Linked DNA regions of Homo sapiens: region 2 is linked to region 1. Evidence: fine-mapped expression QTL. A gene starts in region 1. The other region holds a variant in brackets. All regions are shown on one strand. Distances are from middle to middle.

Region 1 (16,022 bases):
GCAGAGCAATCAAGGCTAACCTCACACATTCACACACTGACACATGTCCGGTTTATAAAGCCTAACTTTTGTACTTCAGCCAAAACATAAATAGCAAAAATCACATCTTTTAGTGCAAAAAAAGTTAGACACACACACGCTTTTACCGTGGGCTGTCTGGTATACTGCCCTTTTGATTTTTCACTAGCAGTGACAGTAGGGCACTGTGCATATTATTATTAACTGTTATGAGTTTACACCCCGTTCCCTAGAAATAAATGTCTCTACTGATGGTTAGTGGCAGTGATAAGTAAAATTAAGAGCATTCAGAAGTCTTTTAGTATTGTGTGACAGTCAAGATGTCCAGAAAGTCAAAACCTCCAATATTAAACAGCATTACATGTTTATTATCTCAGTAAATGCTGAGTACCCTGGGAAAACCAGCCCACTCCTGCTTTGCTGCCTGCCACAACAGCATGCTATTCTTCCTTTCATCTTCACATGAGGGTCTTCAACTAAAAATAAAAACTAATACTAAGTAATAGCATTAATCAGTATCTATAGATATTTTTTCTTCTTTTCTGTGCTAATTATCCACTTAAGAAATAGCTTCTTAATTCACCTTCTTATTTTAAATATAAGCTTTCTGTAGCAGAGGGGTTAAAAGCATGTCCTCTGGATTCAGAATGCCTAGGCCTGGATGCTTCCTTTACCACCTAATGTGGGTCTTGGGAAAGATATTTAACTTCTGACCTCTCTGGGTCTCAGTTTCTGCATATAAAAAAATGAAACAAGAATACTATTACCTAACTCACAGGGTTGTTAAAAATGAATGAGCCAGCTACTCGGGAGGCTGAGGCTGCAGTGAATCAAGATCATGCCACTGCATTCCAGCCTGGGTGACAGAGCAAGATCCTGTCTCAAAAAAAAAAAAAAAAAAAAAAAAAAGAATGAGACCTCTACATGTGTTGTGCTAAGATTAGTGCCTGGATGACCCACAGTAATCACTTGCTAGTCATTATCACCATATCAAAAACCCAGATGACCTCCAGAGAGGAGAAAAATGACAAAGAAAACCCTCATTGGAATCAATATACCATAATGTTGTCTTCTCAGTTACATAGTGAGGGGCCAAATCCACACATTGCATTACTAAGAGTTTAGTAGTAATTAGTAGTCTTGTATTTCTGAGCCAAATTCTTGCCTAAATTTGAGAGGTAGATAAGACTAGGCAAATAGATATCTTCAGAGTGAGTGTCATGCAAAGCAGAAGACTGGGAGGCTGTCACTAATTTGGCCAACCTGTTTCCCTTCTCTACAAAGTTCAATTCTACCACACTCAATGTAACTGAAACAGATGGGAAGCATGAACTTATCCCACTTCACAAAAAAAGGCTAAAATAGAATGCCTTTCACAACTGTTTTCAGTTTGGAAAATTAGTTCTGTGTTTTAAAGATGACAGCTTTTCATGTGCTAAAGCCCTTAAGATAAGCCTTAAGAGTAACTTAAGAGTACAGGTGTAGAAAATCTAATTCTTACATAATCCAAATTGGTCCAAGTGTCAGGTTTTCCTTACTGTTTTCACTTCCATTTAAACATTTATTTACATCTGTAAACTCAGAATCACTTATATGAAATTCTCTAACAAGTTCCCTCTGAAGGAAGGCAACTAAAACCATTACCAGGCATTAATGAAGCATTAAGGTAGTCTTTCTTGCTGGATGTGAAAGTAAAAATGAAATAGGCAATAACTGAATAATTTCAATAAGTGAACTGAAAAAAAATCAATCTCTGCAACCTGTCCCATTTAAACCTTGATTTAGGGCAACCCTCTTCCTTGAAAAATGAAAAAGAAAAAAACTTTAGCTCATACTGCTAGCGAGTTCTGTTCTAAAAAACCAACACACGCAGTAATCTTGACACTACGTGGAAATGAGTAACAATTTGCATTTTCCTTTAAATAAGCCAGGTATAATGACACTTCCCAAGTTCCAGGTATTTCACAGCACAACTGTCAGTACAGAACCACCATTTAAGGCTAGATTATAGAAGGTAATTCCTGTATAGTGTTGAAATACGGCATTACAAATATTATAACATTTTCCTTCAGCTTTTCATATGCTTTCCATCTTTAGTGTTCAATTCACTACAGTTCTTGGAAAACCACATAAACTTTATACAACAATAGACCTCGCATTTTTAGCCTTATGTTCTATGGTACGTCAAGCTGACAGCCCACACAGGAGATCACTCTCAGAAGCAGGAGAACCTCAAACAGATCTGTGCTGAAATTATGGCTAGGTGGCTCCAGGCATGATCCCTCTGTTATACTATGAACTCACACACACACAAACACACACACACACATTTTTTTTTTTTTTTGGCACATCTGTCTCTTCTAATATATTGTGTTTTTTGAGGATGGGATAGATTTTACTCACGCTTTGTACTTCCAAGTAACTTAGCACTGTGCAGGGCCTGTAAGAGGCATCTGATAAGTGTTTGTGGAATAAAAGGAGAGAAGGGCAAAGGAGAAAGACCTTTAGGGTTATAAGAATTTCTTCTAAACTGGCAACTCTCTGGTTTAAAGACTGCCTCTTTCAGAGACAGGGGGAAATAAGTCCTACAATGAATTCAAGTATACAGTATATAAAAGATGCAGAAATAGCGAATATGTATACCAATTATATACACTCAATTTAAAGTTGCCACCTTCTGTATATCCTGCTTCCACCTTTCAAGGCCACTGCTATTGCCAACCTGGTTCCTAGTATCGGCTGGGATTAAGAGTAAAGACAATTTGGAAATGCTAAAAGGAAGAAAGGAGGTTGTCTAACACACTGCCCAAGGATGATACAAGACAGGGCTGAAATCAGATCTTCAAGTATTATTGGCAGTGCTTTCTGAAACAAGAACCCACACGAGTAAGTACTTCCATATTATTTTGTTTTTTTTTTTACAGAAAACTACAGGAACATAAATGCACCTATACAGAGCACACGTTCACTATCTACACCAACGATAAGAAACAAACAAACAAAAACGTCCCTGGGCAACAAAAATAAGTGGTTACAAAGTTCATACCCTAAAACTTGGAGAAGAGCAGGTAGAACATAACTAAGCCAATTTAGCTGTTTTACATTCAATGTCAGGAAGCTCCTACTCCACAGATAAGAAGCTGCAAATTTAAAAGAGGGCAGCAAGGATACTAACAGCAGCAAAAGAGCAGCTTTCCACCACTGAAAGAAGACAAAGACTGACTACTGAATCGACTCAAGTAGATTCAATAATTCAAAAAGCACAGTGGACAACAAACTACATTTTTCGATCATCTCATAGCCTCACTCAACTACTGCCAGTATGCTAGTAATAATAACCAAAGCATATATTGTAAAAATTTTTCCACAAAAGGTATAGCTAAAATAAAATTTTCACATATAATACCTTACTCCCCAACATTAGGTAAATGAGGCATTGCTATGTATATAAAGCAGAAAGTTAACATTTGAGAGCATGGAATGATAGACTTCACTGCCTCCCTCTGTACTTGGTTCTGTCCTCTTTACACATTCATAATTTCATATTCCTTGACCTGCCTTTATAACGTGCCCAAGTTAGCACCCTCTTCTCTAAAGGGGTTATCTTGCCAGAAAGTACAGACCTTAAACACACACCAAAGCTCAAGGTCTCTTCTGCATCAGCTTACATTTTTCTCTTATCTCACACTGGGATGACAGACGCACCCATCTGTCATGTAGATTCTTTACATCCCAAGCTAGGCATTTCTTCTTTTGTTTTTGGTAAGAAAGACCAAATCAGAAGTGAGATCTTTGCATTATTTTCTCTTCTAGGCAGCTCGAGCAGTCATGCTGACATTGTAAGTTAGTCAGAAGCTGGTTTCAATAGCAAAGTAAGCTTCTGTTCTGCAGCCCAGGCCTATGTTAAAGAATTCATTAGTACTTGGGGTTACAGAGACAGCTGAAGGAAAACAGGAAGATATATGTAGGTGTAGAAGAAGGAACTGCTGGAGAAGTACTCTTAAAAAGGGATAACTCCCCTCTTCCACCGTCAAAATAAGGGACAAGGGCAGTCAGGTCAATGCTATTGACATGGCCATTGCCAAGAGCTCTAAGTTCTTCTATTAATGCAAAAACACTGGCTATCAATCCAACTGCCCAATTAGCCTAGCCAGAACAGACTGTAGGAGCAAGGTTGTGAAGCTGCACTTGACTGGAACCTGCACAGGCTACTGCCAGGCTCCAGGTGGTTTAGAACACCATATAATCACAGAAGCAAATAACACACCTCTACAGAATATTTTGAACAGTAATCCGAAACACATTTTCTACGCTTTTTTTTTCTTTTGACAAAAAGAGGAACTAAATAATTTAGTATATACATTAGAATATTTCCCCTTCCCTCATACTGTTTTCCATTTATTCATTCAACTGACGAATATTTATTGTGCACCTTCTACATACAGGCACTGTCAGGTGCAGAGAGAAAAATACACAGATACACAGATTACTGTAACAATTACAACAAACTGTAGGGCCTCATTGTAACTGTGTTCCCCATCCCAATCCACAAAACCACCTGGCACTTAGTCCCAGAAGGACTAAGAGTCAGATTCAGAAGACAGTCTCCTTCTGTTGTTGTTGTTGTTTGTTTGTTTGTTTTTTGAGACGGAGTCTCACTGTCAGCAGTCTGGAGTGCAGTGGTGCAATCTCAGCTCACTGCAACCTCTGCCTCCTGGGTTCAAGCGATTCTCCTGCCTCAGCCTCCTGAGTAGCTGGGACTACAGGCGTGCACCACCATGCACAGCTAATTTTTGTATTTTTAGTAGAGACGGGGTTTCACCATGTTGGCCAGGATGGTCTCAATCTCTTGACCTCGTGATCCGCCTGCCTCGGCCTCCCAAAGTGCTGGGATTACAGGCATAAGCCACCGCGCCCGACCAACTGTCTTTTTATGTATTCTTACAGAATACAAAGAACGCCCTCCTGCTTCTGTTATGAGATTGTGGCAATCACCAAAAGACAACCTCTGTGGTTAGCTATTTTAAAAAGTTATCAATTCAACAGCTGAAGTATCTGGCTTTAGGGTTTTACACTAATGAAATGATTTTAGGGTTTTACACCAATGAAATGATAGACACACAAAGTGTGGGAAGCTGAAGTCTGCCCTAAAACTGAAGGAACAGAAAGTTTCATTTAGGAATTTAAAATTCAGAAGAGATAAGAAGCAGAAACTTTAAGGCTGTGTGAAAGGGCTGGAATCTACAAATGGAAATCAAGGGAATGAACTAAAAGTCAAGGAATTATCAATTTAACATAAAATACTTCCATGATATAAAAGATTATAAAAATAAAGATGATAGAAGCAGTGATGTGTTTTTTCTCTAATCTTAAGAACCAAAAAGAAAAGCAGTGTATGTGTTTTCTAGTTTCCATTCATTCACCAAAACATAGCTACTGTCCTACCAGTTCTAGAGAAACGAATAGAGCATACCAATGTCACATTTTCACCACACAGAAAAGAAACGCTGTGAACTCCAAGATGTCTTGATCATCTTTTACCTGTATCCATATTTATCACTGCACTTTATCATGAGTGAGGCTGAGAGTCTGAATTATACTTGTGTGTGCCTTTGTATTCTCCTTTGATAAGTAATTTCAAATGGGAAAGGGACTCCTGCTGACTGATTCCATTGTACGGTTCGAGAGGCCAAAGTCCAACATCTTTGCAAACTTTAGAAAAGTTATTAATAGAATACATTGATTTTAAATCTCCCTGAGATTGGCTATGAGTCTGGGCAAATAATTTAGCATCTTTACCATTTGTACCTCAGTTTCTCAGACAGTCGTGATAACGAATCATATTTGAGGAAGTGCTCTAAGCTTAGCTCAAAGATCCTGCATAAACTCAAGGAATGTTTGTAATACATAAGAACACTGAGATCTCTAACCAGATTTTTAGAAATCAACGCCAGTGAAATTTTTGCAAGAATTTACAACGCAAAAAACATAGGCGTGGCTAATAAATGGCAATAGTAATTTGTACCAGATTATAGATTTATAAAGTCCTACAGTTTAAAGGCTAAAGGCTAAAAAAAACCCCACATTCCTACTTCCCTTCCAAGTGAGAAATCAAACCTCCAGAGGGAAGCTGGCTGGGTGGGGAAGATGCTGATATCTGGCACTAGACCCAAGTCGCAATAGCAAGCAACTCTCATTTTCCCAAATTAGAAACTCCTTATCCATCCCAATGATGGTATGGTCTTTAAAAGGACTAATAATTCCATTAAGACTAACCAAGCCCTGTTACCCCTACTTTCCCTCCAATCCATCCTTCTACCCCTTCTCTTCTTATCCGGAGACTGGCAGGTTAACAGAAGTCAGATTAGAATGAATCTCTTATCAGAACCCACAATCAAGGACGCAGCTCGACAACTATTCACATTCATCATTAAGGGAAACGTATCGGTCCGCTCTTAATCGCGGGGCCGTCACACCCGGAAATGAAATCTCAAGCGCAGCCCACTGAGGGCTAACACAGCATTCGTTAAGTTGTGCCCTTCTGCGAGCGCCCGGCGCAGGACCCCAGGAGACCGCGGGCCCCGGGCACGGTTGCCCCGCCTTCCGCCTCCGGCCTGCAGGTCACTCGCGCTTCCCGGCCACGAGGCGGGCCCAGCAAAGACCCCGCGAGGGCGCGCTCCCTGGGCTGCCTCAACGGGCGCTCCGGGGAACACAAGAGAGGCACCGGGGCCAATCGCCTCTGGGGACCGCGCAAGGGGACGAGAGACGGTCACTAGAAGGACCTCTGGCAGCCTGAGGCGGCCCCAGGTGGGCCCGCGCCTCAGGTGGGCCAGGGACGTGGCGGCCGAGGCCGCGTCCCTTCAGCCGCGACCGCACACAGGGACACGCGGCCCGAGCGGGTCTCCCAGGAAGCCTCGGGCCCTCGCCCGGGACCCGCCCGCAGCCACTCGGGGACGGCTCAGGGCACCCGGTGCCCGGCCCCTCAGGGAGGCGCCCCGCCCCCAGGCGGCCCCAGCCCGGCGCGCGCTACGTACCGTGCCCCGCCCGCGTGCCGGTCCGCATTTTCCCGCCCGCCGCGCCGGGGGCGGGGGTCGCGCGCCCTCCCCCGCCCCCGCGCCACTCACCTGTCGGGCCCTAGGCTCGCTCCATGGCCGCCCGCGCGGTGCGGTGCGGCGCGGCCCCGGCCGCCCCCGCCGCCTCCGGGGAGGGGCAGCCCCACGCCGCGCTCACCGCCCCCAGCCGCCGCCGCCGCCACAGCGGCTCCGGCCCACCCCCGGCCCGGCCATTCCCAGGCCACCTCTCGCCGCGCAGAGCGGCAGTCCCACACCCACCCCCCCGCCTCCGAGGCCCCCGGCTGTTGGTACCGTCCTAGCGTAGCGCCTGCCCGACGGCCAATCCCAGCGCTCGCTCGGCGCGGCCCCGCCCCCGCCCAGTAGGCGGCCCCTACCGGACCCGCTCCGGACTGCCCCCCTTAACCTCTTCCATACCGGGCCCGTCCGCTTAACTCCCTCGGCGCCGGCGCCGGTCTCCTGCCGGCCGCGCCGCCCTGCCCGCTTACATAAACTGGCCTCTCACTTCTCACTTCCTTCGCTCTTTTTTCTTTTTCTGTATTTGTCCTCCATCCCCCACCCCGTCTTCTCTTTTTCTTTCCTGCTTTTCTTAGGTAGGTAGGCAGCCAAGCAGCAGGACTGGAGAGTTGCGGTCCCCTAGGTCGAGTTCTGTTTGTGAGAAGCATTTTCCCTCCTCCTGTTGCCTTTTTAATTTGCCTTGACTTCTGCTCGGAACTTCTGCCTATCTAAATGTATCCCCCGCTTCTTTTGCCCAGAAAAAGGCTAGCCTTTCCACACTGAGTGCAAATGGCTCTTCATTCGGACCAGAGCGGAGCGTCCTGCTACATACTTTCAGGAGCATCTCACAAAATTATGATTCATTTACTGTAATATTAGTTGTTTTACATCTGTTTTTTGCTAAGGACCGTAAGCCCCATGAGGGCAGGTCAGTCGCTCCTGGGTCGCCAATGCCCGACCGTAGTGCACCCAGTGGGCGCGGATAAATCGTGTGAATGAAAGATTCTGCCTTCCCTTTGTTTGCTTTCAGCTGACTTATACAGAGCCGCCACTGTGTCCATCCATTTATTCACCATATACTAAAGCGCAAACTTAGTGTGCCTGACCCTGAAATATAATGCAGGTTACTCCATGGAATAAGATGCGTGATGGGGAAAGACTGAGCTGACACTTTTTCTTCAGGCCACATAGTTCATTTAATCAGTAAGGCGTACTGAACAGAATTCTTTCTTACTGGCTGTATGATACTGGATGTGCCAGTTAACTTTGCTGAGCATCAGTTTCCTTAACTGGAAAATGGGAGTTAATAACTTCACAGGGTTGTTGTAAGGATTAAGTTAGGAAATGTATGGGGAAAGTACTCTAAGATTATTGTGTATGATTAGGTGTTATTCGTCTGTATATTTGCTGAGCATTTACTATCAGGAGATCCTAGAGAAATAATTGGGCTTGACACTTGCTCCGGACAATGTAGTTAGGGAGGCAGCATTAATCACTGCAGGAGACGTACAGTCAAATGCAGAAGGCATTGTATTAGCTTTTTGCTGCGTGTAGTTGAAAAGGTTTGGAGGTTTGGAGGTCGTTTTCTGGCCGGAGAATACATAATTCTTGGGAAAATGAGCTGGAAGATAATGAGAATCTACCTTATTTCTCTGCACAGGAAGATCAGTCTGCCTGCAGTTAGCTAATCTCCCTGAACCTTGCTCACTACATCAGGAGACCATAAAGCAAAAGGGTAAATCAACAGTTCCTTTAAGACACTTTATCCAAAAGGATTCTCCTTTCTTGCCTGTAACTCTGACAAGGACAGTGAGGGTGAACGCTCCAACTGTCACTGTTCAGGAAAAGGCCAGCTTATCCTGCAGCCTCAGCTTCCTGGGCGGATGATCCCTTCTGTCTTTAAGGATTTTCAGGTGAGGGCAGGGGGCAGTCATTGCCTCTCCAAGCAACCCACTTCAGTGCTTAATTTCGCATCCATCTATCCATCCCACATACTGCAGGACAGACACACTTCCTCCTTTTCTGTCCTCAGAGAAGGAGAGCTATGGGTTCAGGGCCTCTCTGTGAAAGGCTTTCAGACGACAAAATTGTTCTGCCCCCCAGTTTTCCCTTCTCCATGTTGCATTACCCAGGCCCTTGTTGAGTGTATGCATAGCACCAGCACCGTGCCTGACACTCCATGATGTCAGTTTCTGCCCCCTCCGCCTGTACGGGATTATTTTCCAACCAATCAACAGTCAATATATTCTAAGTATTGTGAGGGATGCAATCATTTAAGAAGGGCGTTTACATGACTAGCACACAGGAAGCAGCTGCAAGGAATAGGGACACTTAAATTATGCAGCACAGACTCTGTGATCACTGAAAGAATCACAGTCCAGGAAAACAGTGTGGGCTGGTATTGAGGTGAGCAAAATACAGGTAGGAGAAGAGAGGAACAATATGAACCAAAGTTAGGCAGTGCTCTGTGAACTTACAGCCGCCATCTTCAGCAGATCCTGCGTGACAGGAGAATTGTTCATTTGTTTGTTTATTCATTCATTCACTGATGCATACATTCATTCATTTAATGAATGTCTACCAAGTGCCAGGCACTGAGCTACCAGACCATGCAGAGATGAAGAAAGCCTGGTTCCCATTCTTGAGAAGCTGGCAGGAACCCCAATTAAGGAGGTCTGAGCACTTTGTCAAGACTCTTGTGATGCTCCTTTTACCACTCATACGATGTATGGTTCTACATGTCGTTGTCTAATCTCCTCTTTGCCCTTCTTCCTTGTTCCCAAACTGCAAGGATTTTTAAAGACATACACTATTTCATCTTTATTCCCACTTGTAGAGTGCCTCATACGAAGTACCTTCTCCACATTGATGTGTTGAAGCTCACTGAGTTAAAACCAGAGCAGGAATTTGGCTGTCCCCCTCCAGCCAAGGGTGGTAGGCATCCTTAGCAGAAGGATGGATATTAGCCCCAATGTGGAACCCCAATCTTGGAATTAGCCCCAGTGTGGAACCCACCAGAGGCTTGTCCGTGGCCTGCGGAATTCAATAGGGACACCTGTGCTTGGCATTTACTGCCATAGTCACCTTTTCAGGACCATTTTCTGCTAATTCCTTATCCTCCAACCTAAGGGGCTCACTTGCTGTCCTTTCCCTGCCCTCATGGTTGTGATCACATTGATTCTTCCTCCAGGAAATCCACCTCACTCCCACCTGTAAAAATGTTATACAGCTCTCAGTGCTGCTTGTTCATGAAGCCTTTCATAGCCTTCCCAACAACTGCACATGCTTTCCTTGGCTTCTGAGACCCAGCACTTTATTTGTAACTGTCTTGCGGTGGGGTGTATTGAAGTCTTTGGGGATCTGTCTGACCCCGTTCCCCGGGTTGTATTGACATCTGCGTCTTCTGTAGCACTAACACTGCACATGGCCCATGGTAGCCATGCAATGCTTGAAAGGAAGGTTTGAGAACATGTACTACAGAGCAGGGAATTGAGCCCCAGAGACTTATTTCTTGGTTCCTTCATCATTGTAAGCATTTTCCTTAAACTGTTTCAGAATTTCCAAGTCTCTGCCAATTTGTCAAGCCCTAGGACTCCAATAACAGTCCAGCAATCCCAAGTTAGAAGGAGGATATTGTCTCAAGGTGCTTTTGCATACACGAAGGCAAAATATATATGCATACACGCGCGCGCGCACACACACACACAGAGTTTCTTTTAACCTAGGCAACACAGCCACCATGATGGATCCCTCTGAAACTAATTAAATTAATTCTACATCAAGCAAGTCGAGAGGAGCCCTAGGAAAGCTCACGCTGTTCCAAGGTGCCAGGAGCCTGGGGAGAGGGTGACGGGAAAGGCTAGCGAGTAAAGGAGCACACATATCTCTCTGTTTCCTTCCAGGAGCATGTGCCCTGCCTCAGCTGCTTCCCAGGCAGGTTTGTTCTCTGCATTGGGCTGTCTGTGGACAGCTGCTTCTGCATTTCTTTCCTAACAGGGAAAACTCCTTTCTTTCATTTTGCCACCAGATCTGCAGAGCTACTCCCAGCCCGCCTCTTGCTTATAGCAACGGACTGCCCACTTACCCCATCACGTGGCACCCCTGTCAATGCCATCTGAGCAAACAACTCACGTCCCAGGGACAGCATCATAAGCTACATACATACACAGCACACCCAGCTTCTCTGCTGAGACATTCGGGCTGTGGATTCTGAAAGTGGTGGGAATATTTCGGTTATTTTTTCACTCTAGCAATATTATTTTTAAGAAAAGCTTTATTGAGATATACATACCACAAAACTCACTTGCTTAAAATATACTCAGTGCCTTTTAGTATATTTACAGAGTTGAGCAACCACTAACATAATCTAATTTTAGAACATTTTCATCACCCCCAAAAGTAATACGGGATGTTTTCTTTTTTATTCTGAAAATATATTTACCTATTTATTTTGTTCTTTAAATCTGCACAGTAAAAGCAAAAAGAAAAATACATTAATGGATATGTTAGATTTCTAGAGTTAGTAAGAAATGCAGAGGAGTTATGGCTCTCAAAGCTGTGTATCACTTAACTGTCATGTATGGCTATAGAAATTTGTTTAACTACCCCAAAGTGTACACTTTGTTGTGGCATATACGCTTCAGTAAATGTCCAGGGCCACATCTTTGACATTTTCCAGTTTGTTATGAATTTCTCTAATGCCACATATGGCTTTTCAAGGGATTGGGTGGAGAGAGAATTGCAAATTCCAGATTGCTAATTCCCACAAGGTAATACTTTTGTAATATGCCTAGGATGGTACCACAGGCATATTGGTATTTAACACACATTTTTTTTTTGTTGTGATGGAAGCTGTTTTTTATTGACTCAATTCAATGCATGAAGTAATTGCAGTCACATGGAAGTTCTGGGTTCCTCAGACTTCTCTTTGAGACCCTGCTTGGAAAGCCAGGAAGCTTCTACCATCGATGGATAATGTGGTAAGGAGTTCAGCAGAAGGCTCTTTGAGCCTTTCTCATGGCTGGCCGAGGGATGTGCTAGAGGACAATTATCAGTCTGGCTGTAGGGGAGCTTTTTTTTCTTTTTGAGACAAAGTCTCCCTCTGTCGCCCAGGCTGGAGTGCAGAGGTGCAATCTCAGCTCACTGCAAACTCTGCCTCCTGAGTTCAAGCGATTCTCCTGCCTCAGCCTCCCGAGTAGCTGTGACTACAGGCGTGCGCCACCATGCCTGGCTGATTTTTGTATTTTTAGTAGAGATGGGGTTTTGCCACAGTGGCCAGGCTGTCCTCAAACTCCTGACTTCAAGCGATCCTCCTGCCTTGGCCTCCCAAAGTGCTGGGATTACAGGCTTGAGCCATTGTGCCCAGCCCAGAGGAGCTTTTTAAATAGCTCTATGCCTGCCCCCATCTGCAAAAATTTGAATTTAATAGTCTTGTGGTGAGGTCCTAGCAAGGGTATTTTTTAAAACCTCCAGTTTATTCTAATTTGCAACCAAGGCTGAGAACCATTGTCCTACTAGCGACTAAGCCAGGGCCATGTTAATAGGTTGAATCATGTGAAATTGTCATCTTTATAGGGCAAAGTTGAACATGGACAATTTTATATAGTTCAATCTAATATACAGGCAATTGGGTTTTATTTTCAAGGGAAGATAGCTTGGTCTTTTGGTAACCTTCTGTAGGAAGCCAGCCATCTCTCCAAGCGCTCATCCTGCTGTGAGCAAGGATGAGAAAGATGTGACAAGGAAGAAAGCCAGTGCCCTGTTGGTCCAGATGCTGCCCCTTGGTGGACCAGACCCCCTACATCTTTCCTTCCAGTGGGGCTTAGACATACAGAAGCCTGTGGCTGTCAGGCATGAAGGGAAATGAGCAAAGCAGGCCAAAGGTGAGGCAACCAGAAGGGTTGAGGGAACATGACATACCAGAGAGCCTGGTCCCTCCTTCAAAGGCATTTACATTTAAGTGTGTGTGTGTGTGTGTGTGTGTGTGTGTGTGTGTGTGTGTATACACACACATACACAGAGCAGGCCAAATCATAGACATCTATGGGTTGAAATCTAGTCTTCAGTCCTACAGTTTGTGATCCTTTCCTGGAAGGTAGATGTTTGTGGCACAGGGAGGTGACCCGAACAGAGGAAGACAAGGTACTCAACACAGTGGGACTATAAGCCCAGGGAGAAAGAACCAGTACCTCACTGATGGCTGCTGTACCCCTCTGGGGCCCATGGGTGAAATAAGGAGGCATGGCATGTAGGCAGGGAGATCCCTCAGGCAAGGGAGTACAGGGGACCACTGAAGGGAGTGTGCTAGGATTTTCAGAGATGTTAGCAACGCTTTGAAAGAAATGGTAATACCAGGCTGGTATTTTCACCATGGCAATGCACAAGAAAGGGTCTCGGCCAGGCGCAGTGGCCCACACCTGTAATCTCGGCACTTTGGGAGGCTGAGGTGGGCAAATCACCTGAGGTCGGGAGTTTGAGACCAGCCTGACCAACATGGAGAAACCCCATCTCTACTAAAAATCCAAAATTAGCTGGGCATGGTGGCACATGCCTGTAATCCCAGGTACTCGGGAGGCTGAGGCAGGAGAATCACTTGAACCCAGGAGTGAGAGGTTGCGGTGAGCCAAGATCGTGCCATTGCACTCCAGCCTGGGCAACAAGAGCAAAACTCCATCTCAAAAAAAAAAAAGAAACAAACAAACAAAAAAAAAAACCAGAAAGAAAGAAAGGGTCTCACTTAATGTGACCACCAGTCATCCAACCAAAATCATCAGTTGTCTTAGACTCATTTTTCTCACCCCCACCTCTGATTAGCACCAAGTTCTGCCAACTGTGGCTGCTAGAGAGTTCTCAATCCATCTCCTTCCTTCCAGCCACCCAACCACTGCTCATGTTCAGGCACCATTTTCTCCCCACTGGATTATGGCAACAGTTAATTTTATGTGTCAACTTGACTGGGCCATGGGATGCCCAGATAAATATTATTTCTAGATATATCTGTTAGGGTGTTTCTGGAAAAGATTAGCATTTGAATTGGTGAACTGAGTCAAGCAGATGGCCCTCCCCACTGTGCGTGGACTGCATCCAATCTGTTCAGGGTATAAACAGAACAAAAATGTAGAAGAAGGTTGAATATGTGATCTCTGACTACTTTAGCTGGGATATGGATCTTCCCCTGCCGTTGCTACCCCTGCTTCTCAGGCCTTCAGATCTGGACTGCAATCTATACCATCGGCCCTCTGGCTCTCAGGTTATACGACCAGCTTTCCTGGGTCCTCGGCTTGCAGACAGCAGATTGTGGGACTTCTCAACCTCCATATTCACGTGAGCCAATACCTTCTCATAAGTCCCTTTCTAGAGATATATGTATACATAGATCCTATTGGTTCTGTTTCTCTAGAGAACCTTGACTGATACAGATTTAATGCTATGGAATGAGTGTGTCCCCACAAACTCATAACTTAATGGTATATCATGAACAACTTCTACATTATTACATATTTTTACTACAACATTTTCTTAAATCACAACATTTTTAAAAGATCTTTGGGGCCGGGCATGGTGGCTGACGCCTGCAATCCTAGCACTTTGGGAGGCTGAGGCGGGAGGATCACCTGAGGTCAGGAGTTTGAGACCAACCTGGCCAACATAGTGAAACCCCGCTTCTACTAAAAATAAAAAAATTAGCCAGGCGTGATGGTGGGCACCCATAATCCCAGCTACTCGGGAGGCTGAGGCATGAAAATCGCTTGAACCTGGGAGGTGGAGTTTGCAGTGAGCTGAGATTGTACCATTGTACTCCAGCCTGGGCGACAGAGTGAAACTCAGTTTCAAAAAAAAAGATCTTTGGTATTCCATGCTGAGGTTATACTGAGGTTTGTTTAGCTGGTTCCTTTTAAGTTAGACATTTAGGCTGCTTACATTGAGACTTTTTACATAAAGGTCATAGGGCAGAGAGGCATAACAGAGATGGAGGTGTTCTCCCAGGACCCAGGCACATGTGACACAGAGGGAACTTGTCACAGATACAGCACAGTTCCACTCCAAGGGCTCCTGGAGAATCCATAAGCAACTGGAATTATCCTCTTTGATGATTCATCCAGATGTCAAGGGCAGAACACCCTCTGGCCTTCTTAGCTAGCTGCCTGCTAATCAGCAGCTTACTCAAGAAAAGGCAAAGTTCATTATCTTTCACACGTCTGCAGTTTTTCATTTTTCTCCTTTCTCCTCTTTTCCTATTTCTTATTTTGGCTCTGATATATGAAATAAAGCTATTTTTGGTTTCCCTTGTATTCAAGTAAATGGTGCCCTAATAATTAACCCTATGTCTTTGAATTATTCTTTGATACTATTATACACAGTCTTTCTGTGATCATTCTTGTAGCAAATTGGTGTGCTTATTCAGGACTGTGTTCCATGGCACTAACTTCTGGTGGATGCTGTGTGACTGTATTGCCCTATCTGACTCTAGCCCACAATGTGAAGGAAGGCAGCTTTCAGCATCACAGGTTATAAAATGCACCAAAGAATGACATAATGACACAGAAATAAATATAGAATGCTCAATGAAAAGCTAAGTACTGGAGAAACTTACAAGGAAAATGAAAATAATTCCAGCCCTGCAAATCTTACCTTCCTCCATACGCAAACACAGACTGGCAATTCACAAGTAAATGCAAGGTTTTCAATATCCAACAGTTTGTAGTCATGAAAAAAAAGTCAAAAGTAAAACACTCCGTACAGTGCCTTTCCTTGTCCTTTTTAAAGCTCAAAAGAGGCTCAAGCAACAACATTCTCCTTCTGAGTTGAAACCAACAGGAGCTGAGGCTGCCCTGGGACAGTGGCCCTTTTATGAACTGGGAGTGAAGACCGGGCTTATTCACAGGACTTGTGGGGCAGTTGGACCACACCCTTTCTGGGCTGCTTGCCAGTGTGTGG
Region 2 (16,022 bases), 48 kb before region 1:
GGCCAAGGTTGCCCTGGCTCCTCCGCAGAGGGAAATGAAACCGCAGCAAAACACCAGCAGGTTTCCACAGTGGGAGTCCACGAAAAGCAAGAGGAAGCTGATTGACGGGCTCCAGTCTGGAGGTGTTTGGAGTTTGGAAACCCCCCGAGTCATGGGTAAATCATGAGGCGTCATGTCAATGTAATTATATCTCATAAAAATCCGAAGTACTGTGTGCACTTTCTTGACTAGGTTTGCAACTTTCAAGTGCTGGGACTGAGCAGCCCATCCGACACCATTGGCAAAAGACTACAGGGCCTCTTTCCCTCAGCGCTCTCTTCTCCATAGCGAGGAGCATGGAACAAGGCTGTTAGATTTCAGAAGAGCTTAATGCATTGTTTAAAATCACCTGGCTTACTTCAGCCAAGCCAAAAAGCCGTCTTGTCTTAGGAGAAAACTGCTGTCTAGAGAGATCAGAGGACTTGGCTAATGTCATATGTTTAGTGGCTTTGAGGTTGGGCCCTCCAGACAGTAAGGTGAATACTAGCACCGTGTCTCACAAATGTCACAGGCAACTTGATTCATCTGTTCACCCCAGTCTCTTAGATCACACCGTGCCAGGTCTGCTCCATTCTCAGCAGCTCACCAAATTTGTGCCTTTCATTCGAACAGCTACAGAAACTAGATAAAGCACCTTTGCTAGGACACGAGGTTGAGTTGAAAAGTAAAATGTTTATAGTGTCTCAGCCATTCAGTGTGATGTCAAAAACTTTTCATAGAGTAGCAGCCATGGCACCAGCCCAGCACTGTGTACATCGAGCTTGCGGAGTCCACCGGAGACAGTTAACAGCACATACACCACAGTGCTTATTGGAAAACCAAAAAAAATTAGGCAGGGTGTGGTGGCTCACGCCTGTAATCCTAGCACTTTAGAAGGCCGAGGCGGGCGGATCACCTGAGATCAGGAGTTCGAGACCAGCCTGGCCAACATGGTGAAACCCAGTCTCTACTAAAAATCCAAAAATTAGCTGAGTGTGATGGTGCGCATCTGTAATCCCAGCTACTCAGGAGGCTGAGGCAGGAGAATGGCTTGAACCCAGGGGGCAGAGGTTGCAGTGAGCCAAGATGGTACCACTGCACTCCAGCCTGGGTGACAGAGCAGGGCTCCATCTCAAAAAAAAAAAAAAAAGAAAAAAGAGAAAAGAAAAAAAATTAACTCACTCAACAAATGTCGTTTGAGTCTGAATGGCAGTCTAATATAGTGATTACCATTTTCTATTTGTGCAACCATGGATGTTACTGAACCGTCCCATGCCTGTTTCCTCACCTATAAAAAGGGATAATAAAATAGTCCCCTCATAGGGCTGCTGTGAAGATTAAATGAGCTCATTCAATGAGCACATCATCAACACTCAATACGTGGCCAGTTTTATTTTTGTATCTACCCAGCCATGGAGGAGGCTCTGGGTGGTCTACACAGGAGGCAAGGATGGCTTTAGTTAATACTGGTGGTTTATAAGTGAATTTATGGTGAAAAAATTAATAGTAACAATAGTTTATTAAAACAATCCAAGTTTTAAGATGTTGTGGAAAGAATTATCTGTACTTGGAACTTTTATGTAGGGCTACCTGCTCATTTCTGAGATGTTCTGACTTGGATTTAGCATCCCATTGTAAATAAAGTAGGTTAGCTGGGAAGTTCTTCGACAACCAACTTGATTTCAAGACATTTTTATTATTTATTTATTTATTTATTTATTTATTTAGAGACGGAGTCTTGCTCTGTCGCCCAGGCTGGAGTGCAGTGGTGCAATCTCGGCTCACTGCAACCTCCGCCTCCCCGGTTCAAGCGATTCTTCCCCCTCAGCCTCCCAAGTAGCTGGGATTACAGGCGTTCACCACCACGCCCCCGCTTTTTTTTTTTTTTTGTATTTTTAGTAGAGACGGGGTTTCGCCATGTTGGCCAGGCTGGTCTCGAACTCCTGGCCTCAGGTGATCTGCCTGCCTGCCTTAGCCTCCCAAAGTGTTGGGATTACAGGCGTGAGCCACTGCGCCTGGCCGTTTTTTTCCAAAAAAAAAAAAAAAAGAGGTAAACACTTTTTCACCAAAGAGTCAGTCCCGTGTAGAAACAATAAATCCAAACACCAGTTTCTAGATACGTCTCTTGAGTATTTCAATAAATACTCCTTTCCGTCTCAGGCCTTGGAGGCTGTGCTCGTTTTAAAGTTCTGGAAGCAGTATCTCATGGATGACGGGGACATCTAGAGGCTGCTGGGAAAACTACAGACAACTATGATTCTTTAGCAAGCATTACGGTGCTACTCAAGGGCGGTTCCAGAACCCCACCACTGGCATCACCCAGGAGCTTGTTAGAAATGCAGAATCTCAGGCCCCAGACATACTGAATCAAAACCTGCACTTTAAGAAGGTCTTTCTGTGCAGGGAGCCATGGCTCATGCCTGTAATCCCAGCACTTTGGGAGGCTGAGGCAGGAGGGTGGCTTGAAGCCAGAGTTTCAGACCAGCCTGGGCAATAAGGCTAGACCCCTTGTCTCTACCAAAAATAAAAATAAAAAATAAGCTGCGTGTGGTGGTGCGCGCCTATAATCCTAGCTACTTGAGAGGCTGAGGGAGGAGGATCACTTGAGCTCAGGAGTTCGAGGCTGCCAATGAGCGATGATTGTGCCATTGTACTCCAGCCTGCGTCAAAGCAAGACTGTCAATCCAAAAAAAAAAAAAAAAGCCTAAGGCAAAATTGGCACACAACACCTTTATTGATGTCATCTGAGTATGACCTAGCTTTACAACAGACATCTTCCCAACCCCACTGAAGGCAATCAGAACCATCTGCCTTGGAAACACTGGGTCAAAAGCAAGTCTCGGCCTGGGACGGTGGCTCACGCCTGTAATCCCAGCACTTTGGGAGGCCAAGGCAGGTGGATCACTTGAGGTCAAGTGTTTGAGACCAATCAGCCCGGCCAATATGGAGAAACCCCGTCTCTACTAAAAATACAAAAATTAGCCGGGCGTGGTGGCATGCGCCTGTAGTCCTGGCTACTCGGGAGGCTGAGGCAGGCGAATTGCTTGAACCTGGGAAGCGGAGGTTGCAGTGAGCTAAGATCGCGCCATTGCACTCCAGCCTGGGCACTGCAGTGAGATTTGGTCTCAAAAACAAAACAAACGCAAGTCTCCATATTTAAATAACCCTGCATGAGAAACATTACAGGAATGTTTCCCAGCTCATCTATGTTCCTTTAACATCTACACAGCACTTGAGGTGGACTGAGAATGTCCTCAAGAGACAGGGCACACAAACATTTCCTAGAACAATGAGAAACCCCTGAAGCGATATTTCTGGTGACCCAGATACTGAAAATACAGGCCCAGAAGGCCCTGTATCCACTAAGCAAATAGTTCTGCATTTCCGGAGTCAGGGGTTCTATACACACCTCTCGTCAAGCCTGGATCAATCTCCACTTTTTCAATGTAGGTACTGCCTAACCCAATCCCTCCCAATCCCCACCTCCATGATCCTCTCCCGTTTCTTATTCTCACTGCAATTAATTTATATAATTCCTGAGGGACTTGGTGCCTCACAAGCAGTTTTTTTTTTTTTTTTTCTGCCAGGTCTAGACTGCAGGCTCTTTGAGGGAAAAGACAGTCACTATCATCTCAATGGTATACCACAGCTTGCAGCACAATGGCCCACAGATCTACTGATGACAGACCAAATATCTCACAAATTGTGATTTAATACCATTATTCCTTGGGGCTTATACTGCAACTTACCTTACAAAACCCTACCCATGGAAATCCAGTGGCTATGACCATTCCTATCTATTTTACAAAATGACGACTGCTAAAAATCAGTCTAATAAGCAAACATACTAGGTAAAATTACCCAGTAACAGAGCCCCGCCCTCCCTACTCCCAGCTACCTTTTTCAAACTCTAATACCAGTCGTTCTGATATGCTTGAGAAGCAAATGAATCCTGAACTCTAGCCTGGAAAAGAATTTGTATGTGGTGAGTCAGTGAGATACACAGACCAGGCTCTACTAGCCTCCCACATGTATTCATGTACAAATGACAAAAACTAGCACAAATATGCTGCAAATAAAATAGTTTTGTTTTGTTTTTTGAGACAGAGTTTCGCTCGTTGCCCAGGCTGGAGTGCAATGGCACGATCTCGGCTCATTGCAACCTCCGCCTGCTGGGTTCAAGCAATTTTCCTGCCTCAGCCTCCGAGTAGCCGGGATTACAGGCGCCTGCCACCACACCCAGCTATTTTTTTTTTTTCTTTTTTTGAGACTGAGTTTCACTCTTGTTGCCCAGGCTGGAGTGCAATGGCACAATCCCAGCTCTCCGCCTCCCGGGTTCAAGCGATTCTCCTGCCTCAGCCTCCCCAGAGTAGCTGGGATTACAGGCATGCACCAAGCTGGCTAATTTTGTATTTTTAGTAGAGAAGGGGTTTCACCATGTTGGCCAGGCTGGTCTCAAACTCCCGACCTCAGGTGACCCACGGGCCTTGGCCTCCCAAAGTGCCGGGATTACAGACATGAGCCATGGTGCCTGGCCCAATAAAAATCTTAAGAGCTTTGCTCAGTTACCTGGTTGAGGTTTATGATGCTGGATTCTATTTCAAAAGTTAAAAATCTAGGTGTCCTAAGAAGTACTACTAGGGCAACTGGCCTTCTCTTCCTGCCTTTTTTGTAGTGTGCTGACAAGTTCTTCAGGATTCATAATTCTTTACCTCTAAGGAAGCTGCAAAAATGGAGTTAACTATTAAATATACAAAAAGCACCTAACAATGATCCCATAGAAAATTTTGGTATAGTTACAATCTAGTATGAACCGTTTGAAGACTGGTGAGGAAATTTAAAGGTCTAATCCACCAGGTACTGTGAAACTATCCCTGTGGAAGTTTAAGTGGTCACAAAAGATGTAATCTTCTTCTGTCCCCTAACAGGAAGGGAACTGAAATAGGAACCACTGGAAATATCCTGAAGGGGGAAAGAAGAGGAAAAGATCAGATATCAATATTTATTAAAATCTTTATTCATTTTCTTTTTTCAGAATTGAAACCCATAGAACACATTAGAAATTTAGATCCATATCTGTCTTGTTTGGTATCTTACCAAGTACAATCTCTGTCTGTGCAACAGCTCTGAGAGGAAATCCTTGGCAGATCAAAAGAGAGGGTAGTGGCTCCCACACTTTCCATTTAAGCAAATAAATGAGCTTCTGAGTAGTTGTTCCCAGTTTCACCCAACATTTTGTGTTTATGAGAAACACCTTAGTTCCTAAAAACCTGTGGTAGTCCAGTACCTAGCCCCTACCTTGTCACCACCCAGACTTGAGGAATTGAAGGGAAAAAAACTGGCCTTCCCCTGTAGGATGAGTTTCCCAAGGCCAGATGTGCCTGGCTCACTAGTATGTCTGGCCTGTGCTGGCACACTAGAGTTGCTCAGTAGTTATTCGCTGATGAATGGTCTTTATGTTAATTAGGGTCCACTCTCAGAGACTGAGAACCTTTCACTAAGGTTCTTTCTGAATCCTTCAGAAAGTCAGTGTTCCCCTTTGTCAAAATAAATATGTTTTTCTTGCTAGAATACATATACGACTATATACATTACATATACTTTTACTCATGTTTCCTGAAGCTCAAACTCACAGGATGAGGCATATAAGATAGCTTACTGATGATGCTGTTTTACCATCATTGAGGTGTGGTCATTTACTGGTCAAAGAATACACGGGTGATCGAGAAGAAAGGCTGAAGAAATATGGCGGATGGGAAGGGAAGGGAAGGCAAAAGCATTTTTTTTTTTTAGAAAAAAAAGATCGATTTCTTTGGAAGATAATGCTGGCTTCAGATGACATTGAAAAATTGCCACGTATAGGACTCATCTTTCCCAAAATAATATGCAATTAATGTACCTGAATTCTTCCATTTCCTTCTTAAATTTCATTTGACATATTAACCCTGAGTGCAAACAGGGGGCAATGCCTTATTAATACATTCTTGAATAATACTCTGAGCAAATCAGATCCTATGAATTTGTTTTACACAGAAAATTATTTACATTTCCCCCAAACCCACAATGCAGCCTTACACTAAAGAACAGTTTTATAACAAAACCTTTATACTCAAATTTATCCATTCGAACTTTAGAATAAACATGTTTTAACAAGTTGGAGGAGGGCAGGAAATGGCCATGAGTTCTGATTTTCCTAGTTTTGTAGTATTAAAATGTCTCCACGTCTACCTTTGGATGTTTGGTAGGCATACCTAACTTACAGCTGATCCAAACCCTGCAACGACTTGATTGTAACAGCCTTAGATTCTAATAAATAAAGTAGGACAGTGTTACAAAACTTAAAAAAAAATTCACCTCCTTTTTTTTTTTTTAAGACAGAGTCTCGCTCTGTCTCCCAGGCTGGAGTGCAGCAGCACAATCTCAGCTCACTGCAACCTTCGCCTCCTGGATTCAAGTGATTCTCCTGCCTCAGCCTCCCGAGTAGCTGGGACTACAGGCGCATGCCACCGTGCCCTGTTAATTTTTGCATTTTTAGTAGAGACGGTCTCACCATGCTAGCCAGCCAGGCTGGTCTCGAACTCCTGGCCTCAGGTGATCTGCCTGCCTCAGCCTCCCAAATGCTGGGATGACAGGCATGAGCCACGGCACCCGGCCCCCACCTCTTCTTTCAAACAGTGTTTGAAATTTTAGGGCTTTCTGAATTTTAGAGCTGTAAGTTTATGGTTGGTTTTCTCCAAGATTTGCCTAAACATACTTTTCCAGCTTACTCCAATCCTGACTTACAACAAAAATTTATATTTTTAGTGCCATGTCATACCACTCTATTAGCTCAATTCTAACTTTATGGATTAGAGTTCTAAATTTTATAGATGAAAATTCTAAATTTATCATCAGAATGCCTTTTAAGATCACGAGTTTGAAAACAGATGGGAATAAAATGAAATGATATATTTTCTGCAAATGCTTTCAAGAAAGGATGAGACATTTTCTTTCCTGCCTGCTTTTTTCCTTAGCAGAATCTTCTGCCTTCAATGTTATGAAGTTCCCAGTTTCAGAAGACTTCTTATTCATTTCAGTGTGGCATACTAAAGGCGTCATGTATTTGAAAGACCACAAATCCATAACTTAGTTCAACTAACATTTACAGGGAGAGCAGAGATGACATCTCTTCCTATTGTCTCCTCCCAGCTGGCTCCTGGAAGCTTGTGGGTGAGCACTAACCAAGGTATTCTCATACTGAGCTGTGAATTTCCCTGGACACACAACACTGAGTAGCCTTAAAACTGAAATCAATGCCTCCTTTGGTTAACACGAATTCTGTGTTTTGTGCTAGTCTGTCTTCTTAAATTCAATACACGCTTTTTATAACTCAGCCCATTGTTCTGTTCATCTCAAAATGTATATAAAATGTACAAAAGTTTCCTAATTTCATGCCATTTAAAAATAGTTACAGGTTATTACTCAGTTATCTTTCAATGCAAGAAAACTGGGCATAAATTCTAAAGCTGTTTTTGAGAGTGGTTGCCTAAAACTAGTTTCCAATGGCTGGCATTAAATGTATTCAACCACACTGTTTATATATTCGCCTCTACTTGACAGAAATGCAAAGCTGGAACAGCACCTCAACAAGATGCAGGAGCAAAGCACACAGCTCTGAGTCCATAGATGAGTGGGCACATCAGGCCTGTCTTCCTTTGCCCCTGTGTTTTACTGCAACTACTTACATGTTGAGATCACTTTGCCAGAACACAAAACAAAAACTGTGTTTTACAAACCTGAAATTTGAGAGTGCTAAGAGGAGAAAGAAGCATAATACAACATCATGGGTTCAGAACTCCAAACAAGACTGAATGATAGAATTAGGATTTGACATAAATCAAAATCTTAAGGCTCTTCCTTTTAACCTCCTCAATTTCAAGGCTCAGAAGGCTTAAAATCTTGGCCGGCCACGGTGGCTCATGCCTGTAATCCCAGCACTTTGGAAGGCTGAGGCAGGTGGATCACCTGGGGTCAGGAGTCCAAGATCAACCTGGCCAACATGGTGAAACCCGAAACCCTGTCTCCACTAAAAATATAAAAATTAGCTGGGCACGATGGCGGGCGCCTGTAATCCCAGCTACTCTGGAGGCTGAGGCAAGAGAATCGCTTGAACCTGGGAGACGGAGGTTGCAGTAAGCCAAGATCGTGCCACTGCACTCCAGCCTGGGCAACAGAGTGAGACTTGGTCTCAAAAAAAAAAGAAAAAAGAAAAAAAGAAGAAGGCTTAAAATCTTTGTTTCCAATCTTCCATGGCCCCAAATCACAAGATAAGTCCAGCCACTTATCTGAGAGAGTAAGGTATACACTCTCACCTGTAGGAGTGTCCCTTTCTTATGAGAAAGGGACAAAAAGGTTGCCGATCTCTTGGGAACAGCAGCTTCAGTGACAAAAATGCCTTAAAGGCAGAGGTGGAAATTCATTTCAGAAGAGA[A/G]ACGAGGATGACAGAGACCACAGGCAACCTGTTATTCAAGGTATTATTTCAGTTTGCTTTGTTAATTTGGGAAGGACTGCTTTTGGCAAAAGGGGAAAAAATTAGTCTCCACAGAGAATCATGCTTAGATTGTAATAGTATTTTCTCTAGAGACAACTTTTTGGTTAATTGGGACACAACTATGAGAATGCAGAATTTACTTAGGTGCAAAGTCATGTTTGCTTTTTATACACCTTAAGATCCTAAATACAAGGGAACCTGTTTTTCAGTAGTTCAGTCATCTCCCTGATTCTGGTTCTACCATTGGGTCTCTCTCTCTTCTTCCCTCCTCTAAGATCATCAAAACAATACTACCCAATGGCTTAAAAGCCCAAACATTTTTCTGTTTTTGTCCTTCCCTCCAATTCTATCTTAAACATGTATCTCCTCTAACAGAGTGTGCTATTTTGGCTTGATGGAATGCAAGGTTTTATTTGCTGCCACTCTGTAGGACAGTAAGCATTCCAATGTAACTAGTTCTGGTAAAAAAAAAAAAGACAAAGAGATTGCAAAGTGTTTCCACAAAATCCACGGGCGTAGAGAAAGGACTGCAAGGTTCAACTCAAAACACATGCTCCAGAGCCAATCCCAGTATTCATCTATCCAAATGTCACACCTGTTTGTCCTTTGGCATGGGAATTAAGACTGACCAACTATGATGCCCAACCCTAGAATGAGCAATTGCCGAGGAGGTGAGAAGGCGATTCAGCAGGAATGTCTCCATGCTCTGAAACTTGTGGTCTTTGCTTTAGTTTCTACTACAGAAAATACCAAAGACATCCAAGGCCACTCTGTCCCGTCACCAGAACTTGCTGCTGGCCACTTCCAATCCATCTCATACCATTTGGAATTGATTGTGCTGTTTCTCTATCTTTGTAAAAAGAAGTTTCACTTATTTTGTGTCGAGAATTACAAGTGTGAGAGAGGCATCCTGTCTTCCACCAGTACTGTGTCCATCCCAAACTGGTCGGTGCACTGCTTCACGGTGGCCAGGACACTCAGGAGCCGCTGGTCCACGGCGTCCAGATGAGGATCAGAGAGCACTGGGGAGATGGGGTCATGGGCCATGGCAGATTTTAAGGCAGACTTTAGCACACCATTCTTTAGGTAGTTCAGTCTGTTCCAGGTGGACACCCGAATGCTGGGAGAAAAAGTTATAGAACAAGGTACATAAAACTTCTCATTATCAAACGGAGTTGAAAGCCTGCTAGGCAGACAAAAGTGAAAAAATAATTAGGTAAAATCCTTTAACTAAATAATTTTTGCTTTAGAATTACCCCTACATAATGAGTAAGCCACATTACTATGTTTTGATATTGTTTCTGTGTAACTAATCAGAGATATATACAGAGATTTACACACATGTTCACTGCAGTGCTGTTTATAACAGGAAAAATGTTGAACAATCTGAATGTCTAACGACTGGGAAATAGTTAAATTATGGTTCATCCATTGAAAGGAATACCATGCAGCTGTTAAAAACAATTTTGAAAATTTAGTGGAATGGGAAAATGCCTATGATATGATGCTGGGTGGGGGGAAGAGGTTGGAGGAAAAACCTGTTTCACTTCAAATCTGTAGGAAAACAAAATACACATACATGGATTGGAATGAAGTACACTACAGTGTTAACAAGAGGATCCTTAGACGTTAATCCTTAGACGTTAATGGGTACTATAAACTTCCTTCTTCCTCATGTGTTTCTGAAGTCTAAAATAATTTCTACTGGGAAAAAATTATTATTATTATTTTTTTTTTGAGACAGAGTCTTGCTCTGTCGCCCAGGCTGGAGTGCAGTGGTGTGATCTCGGCTCACTGCAAGCTCTGCCTCCCGGGTTCACGCCATTCTCCTGCCTCAGCCTCCTGAGTAGCTGGGACTACAGGCACCCGCCACCACGCCCGGCTAATTTTTTTGTATTTTTTAGTAGAGACGGGTTTTCACCGTGTTAGCCAGGATGGTCTTGATCTCCTGACCTCGTGATCCGCCCGCCTCGGCCTCCCAAAGTGCTGGGATTACAGGCGTGAGCCACTGCGCCTGGCGGAAAAAATTATTTTAAGGATACCTATCTGCCTTATTTCACCAACTGCTACCATTTGAATGTCTGTCCCCTACAAAATACATGTTGAAATTGCCATTGTAACAGTATCAAGGTAGAGTCTTTTAAGAGGTCGTTAGGCCATGAGTGCTCTGCCCTCATGGGTGGAACTAATGCTGTTATTAAAAGGCAAGTTCAAGGCCAGGAGCGGTGGCTCACATCTGTAATCCCAACACTTTGGGAGGCCGAGGTGGGCCCTCAGGTTGGGAGTTCAAGACCAGGCTGGCCAACATGGTAAAACCCCGTCTCTACTAAAAATACAAAAATTAGCTGGGCGTGGTGGCAGGTGCCTGTAATCCCAGCTACTTGGGAGGCTGAGGCACAAGAATCACTTGAACCCGGGAGGTGGAGGTTGCAGTGAGCCAAGATTGTGCCACTGCACTCCAGCCTGGGCAAAAGAGCAAGACTCCATCTCAAAAAAAAAAAAAAAAAAAAAAAAAAAGGCGAGTTCAGCCCCTTGTTGCCCTCTCTCTTTGCCCTTTTGCCTTCTGCCATGTGACATGATGACACAGCAATAAGTCCCTTGTCAGATGCTGGCACCTTGATATTTAACGTTCTAGCCTCCAGAACTGTGAACCAATAAATTTCTGTTCATTATAAATTACACAGTCTGGCCAGGTATGGTGGCTCATGCCTGTAATCCCAGCACTCTGGGAGGCCCAAGGGGTCAGATCACTTGAGGTCAGGAGTTCGAGACCAGCCTAGGCAACATGGTGAAACCCCATCTCTCCTAAAAATACAAAAATTACCCGGGCATGGTGGTACATGCCTGTAATCCCAGCTACTTGGGAGGCTGAGACATGAGAATCACTTGAACCTGGGAGGCGGAGGTTGCAGTGAGCCAAGATCGCGCCACTGCACTCCAGCCTGGGCAACAGAGCGAGACTCCATCTCAAAATAAGATAAAATAAAATAAAATAAATTACCCAGTCTGTGGTATCCTGTTACAGCAGCACAAAACGAACTAAGACACCAACTATAGCATATCTTTTATTTAAAATCTGAGAAGAAAAGTTCTTAGCTCTCTGTGGGTAAAGGAGGAATTACTGGGTATGCAGAAATGTCTGATTCTGTAAAAGGCAGCCTGTTGTGCAGCAATTTAAAAGGTAAGAAAGACTGCTGCATAAAGCATGCATGGAAGGGACAAACAGGCACAGACGGAGTACAGTTATTTTTATTCTTAAATATATTACAAATGCCCAGAGCATCAGAGCTTCCTCTGTGAGACTAAGTTATTATGTTACTTCCTCTCAGCTCCAAATTCACTCTTCAAAATATGCTCTGCTGGCCAGGCACGGTGGCTCATGCCTGTAATCCCAGCACTTTGGGAGGCCAAGGCGGACGGATCACCTGAGGTCAGGAGTTCGAGACCAGCCCCACCAACATGTTGAAACCCTATCTCTACTAAAAATACAAAAAATTAGCTGGGCGTGGTGGCAGGTGCCTGTAATCCCAGCTACTCAGAAGGCTGAGGCAGGAGAATCGCCTGAACCCGGGAGACAGCGGTTGCAGTGAGCCGAGATCGTGCCACTACACTCCAGCCTGGGCGACAGAGCGAGACTCCATCTCAAAAAACAAAACAAAACAAAAACAAAAACAAAATGTGCTCTGCTACGACGGATGGGATTCCTTTAAGCATCTTTCCCCTAAAGCATTCTCACTAGAGGGCGCAAAGGGGACACTGCAGGGTGAAGGGGCTCTCCAAATGCTTCTGTGGGTCAATGGTGGTGTTGGGGAGGCAGAGAGGTCATCCACTGAAGACCTGTCTAGCCACACTCCCAGAAGGTGTGGGTCCTTGGTGACCTGAAGCCTTAGCCTGGCCTGGGGATAACTCTCCCGAGGCCCTCTCAACATGGAAACCAGAGCTTTGAAGGCCATCTGCTCACCCTGGCCCCAATTCCCTCTGAAGGCCCACGTGTGTGCCTCACTTGCAGCACAGAAGGTTTCTACTGGATTCTCTCTCTCCTTCTGCATGTCATGACACCAGCTGTGGCTTGAATGTACACCCCACCTGCACTCTGGAGAGTTGCTTCTGGCTTGCTCAGCACCTGCAAACTAGCAAACTTCTCTGCTATCTGGTGGGCTGAGCTAAACCTTCTCCACTGAAGTCCAAACTCCAGTCATTGGGAGGGGATCCCCTTCCAAGTTTGTCCTTCCTTGGGTACTCTCCCTCAGCCCTTTTATAGTCACTCCTGTTATTGGAATTTAATAATTCTTTATATTGGGTCGGGCGCAGTGGCTCACGCCTGTAATGCCAGTAGTTTGGGAGGCCGAGGCAGGCAGATCACAAGGTCAGGAGTTCTAGACCAGCCTGGCCAATATGGTGAAACCCCGTCTCTACTAAAAATACAAAAATTAACCAGATGCAGTGAGGGGCGCCTGTAATCCCAACTACTTGGGAGGCTGACGCAGGAGAATCACTTGAACATGGGAGGTGGAGGCTGCAGTGAGCCGAGATCGCGCCACTGTACTCTAGCCTGGGTGACAGAGCAAGACTCCATCTCCAAAAAAAAAAAATTCTTTATATTAAACACCTCTGTTTATCACACTATGTCTTTGCTATCTCCTGATTGAACCAGACTGATAAAACTACTACCACAAAAACATCTTCAAAGACAAACACACAATTCTTGATTGTATATATCACTGCTTCCTATCATTAATAAAGACAATGAAGGACAGCCTGGGTAAACTGTTACTTTCTACAGAATTTTGTTGTCATTTAAAAAAAGAAAGAAGATTAAGAGACCAGTTGCTATGGCAGTCTTATGTGATATGATGTTGCTGGGAGCTGACCAGTATTAAATGGTGCTCTTGAACTTGTTTTTCTGTGTAGCCAAGCAAGGTGGATCCCAGCTAATTCTTGATGTGCGTGCTCTAAAATTACACCAGGATGGTCGGGCGCGGTGGCTCACGCCTGTAATCCTAGCACTTTGGGAGGCTGAGGCAGGCGGATCACTTGAAGTCAATAGTTTGACACCAGCCTGGCCAACATAGTGAAACCCGTCTCTACTGCAAATACAAAAATTAGCTGGGTTTGGTGGCAGGTGCCTGTAGTCCCAGCTACTCGGGAGGCTGAGGCACAAGAATTGCTTAAACCCGAAAGGCAGAGATTTCGGTGAGCTGAGATCGCACCACCACACTCCTACCTGGGTGACAGATGCAGACCCTGTCTCAAAAAAATAATAAAATAAAAAATAAAATAGTAAAATAAAATTATTTCAGGAATGATGAAAAGAAGCTTCTTAGAGCTTAGACTTTATCTCATTTTCTTGACTCATTTTTCAATTTCTCTGTTCTCTAATACAGAGTTTTTTTAAAAAAACCAATTATTATTTATTATTTATTTTTTTTGAGACAGAGTCTCACTCTGTCACCCAGAATGGAGTGCAATGGCACAATCTCGGCTCACTGCAACCTCTGCCTTCCAGGTTCAAGCAATTCTCCTGTCTCAACCTCCTAAGTAGCTGGAATACTGGTGCCTGCCACCATGCCCGGCTCATTTTTGTATTATTAATAGAGACGGGGTTTCGCCATGTTGGCCAGGCTGGTCTCGAACTCCTGACCTCAGGTGATCCACCCACCTTGGCCTCCCAAATTGCTGGGATTACAGGAGTGAGCCACTGTGCCTGGCCAAAATAAATTATTATTTATGGAAAAAGTTACTTTTGGTTTAGACAATTTCAAACTGAAATATGTAAACCCCAGGTGGTATGTGATGGGTGAGTGAGAGGAGTTAAAACCACAAGGTAACCAGGTGTAGTAACCAGGCATACAGATTTTACTCCTTTTTTTTTTTTTGGCAGTGGGGTGGGGAGTGTGGGTGATTATATTCTGCTATTAAACCAAACATGTATTACTGTATACATACAATCTTCTATTCATACAAAATTTGAGATGAATTCTGAGCTTTGGGTTATCTGCCTTCACCTTTCCCTGATATCCCATTTCAGGATGTCCAGAGGTTCTAGGTTGGAAAAGTATGAAAAGCACTGCTCAGGTATCAGAAAGTTTGAGGGCCAAGAAAATGGATGTACTGTTACCTGAGCCTGGAAAAGAAGGCAATGCAGGCACATGTATTTGCTGTGCATAACTTACATGCAACACTGATAGAGAGGGGCAAGAATGCTTCTTTCATCCAGCGAGGGGTTCCCAAAGCTGAAAATTAAATTAAAACTTAGTGAATTAGGTGGAAGTACTGTTCTCTTCTTAGCATCAAAGCAATAGCAAATTCTATATGAAACTCAAATGTGATCCTAGATAATTTCACGCTCCAGCAGCTCAAATCACTTAAATTGAAAACAAGCGGGGCATGACCAATTAGACACAGGATCCCTAACAGCCTGTACTAAAATATCTGACAACAAATATACTCATTTACAAGGGACATTTTCCTGCCAAGATATCACAAGGTGCTGGAGCATAACTATGGTAAACACAGTGCGGAGTTCACAGACCAAAGGGAGAACTTGAAGACCCCTAAGCCTGCAAAGGTTTTAAGGACCAGAGAGAAATAAAAGCCATTTATATTAGATTCCCACAAACAAGCAGATGACCATTACTTGTAAAAAGAAGTCACACTTATTCTACTCCCAAATTAGCAATATCCTATTCCCTACAAGTAAGTATAAGTACAGATTCAAATTGGAAAAACTGTTCACACAGGCTGAGGAAACTGATTCACAGCAGATGCAAAAATTACCTTAGCAGCAATTCAGAGTTAGAAAAGGAGAACTGATTCTGGAAAACTGTCAACCTTTCAATCTTTCCAGAGGCTCACCTTAATAGCTAGAGTCTGGTAGCCCTTAGTACAGTGTAGGTCCTCCAGTAATTCAAGGCAAAGGCAACTGCTATGGTCTGAATGTTTGTGTCCCCCTCAAATTCGTAATCCCTGGTACAACAGTCCAACAGTATTAAGAAGTAGGGCCTTTGGGAGATGATTAAGTTACGAGGGAAGAGCCCACATGAACGGGATTAGTGCCCTTATAAATGAGGCCAGAGGGAGCGTGTTTACCTCTTCTGCCATATGAGGACACATAGAAGGCACCATCTGAGAAACAGGCCCTCACCAGACACTGAATCTGCTGGCACCTTCATCTTAGAGTTCCCAGCCTCCAAAACTGTAAGCAATACATTTCTGATGCTTATGAATTACCCAGTCTAAGGGATTTTGTTATAGCGGCCCGAGTGGACAAAGCAACTATTTTGATATACACCAAATATCAAGTATCATGTGTATCACAGGATGAGTGCTATGTGCTTTGCTGTAATGGGGTAGAGGGAGAGGCAGTGTTTGCTGGTTTTTCATTTTCTGTGGCCATCACCATCTTTCACAAAGCATGAGGCGCCTGGTGTTCAGTATAAGATGGTGGCATCATTAGCAAATGCTGCCCAAGCAC

What was found. PIP is the estimated chance that this variant, and not a neighbour inherited with it, causes the effect.
Region 2: its variant is fine-mapped to the expression of FAM20B in T cells (TOPMed, PIP 0.98). The same link has a PIP of 0.9 or more in skeletal muscle.

Annotation. Positions count from the first base shown.
Region 1 is chr1:179,017,219-179,033,240 of GRCh38, reverse strand. It overlaps FAM20B (FAM20B glycosaminoglycan xylosylkinase), which reads right to left and starts at 7,347. Exons shown (of 8, transcript NM_014864.4): 1 at 7,143-7,347. RefSeq lists silencers at 3,573-3,867, 6,561-7,300, 7,341-7,530, an enhancer at 3,636-4,511 and a cis regulatory region at 15,780-16,022.
Region 2 is chr1:179,065,559-179,081,580 of GRCh38, reverse strand. FAM20B (FAM20B glycosaminoglycan xylosylkinase) reads right to left here. Exons shown (of 8, transcript NM_014864.4): 7 at 14,722-14,781; 8 at 5,014-9,668. The coding sequence ends at 9,437. Among named protein-coding and RNA genes, the nearest start is that of TOR3A, 8.5 kb to the left of the region's middle. The variant A/G (reference allele first, on the strand shown) is at 8,489.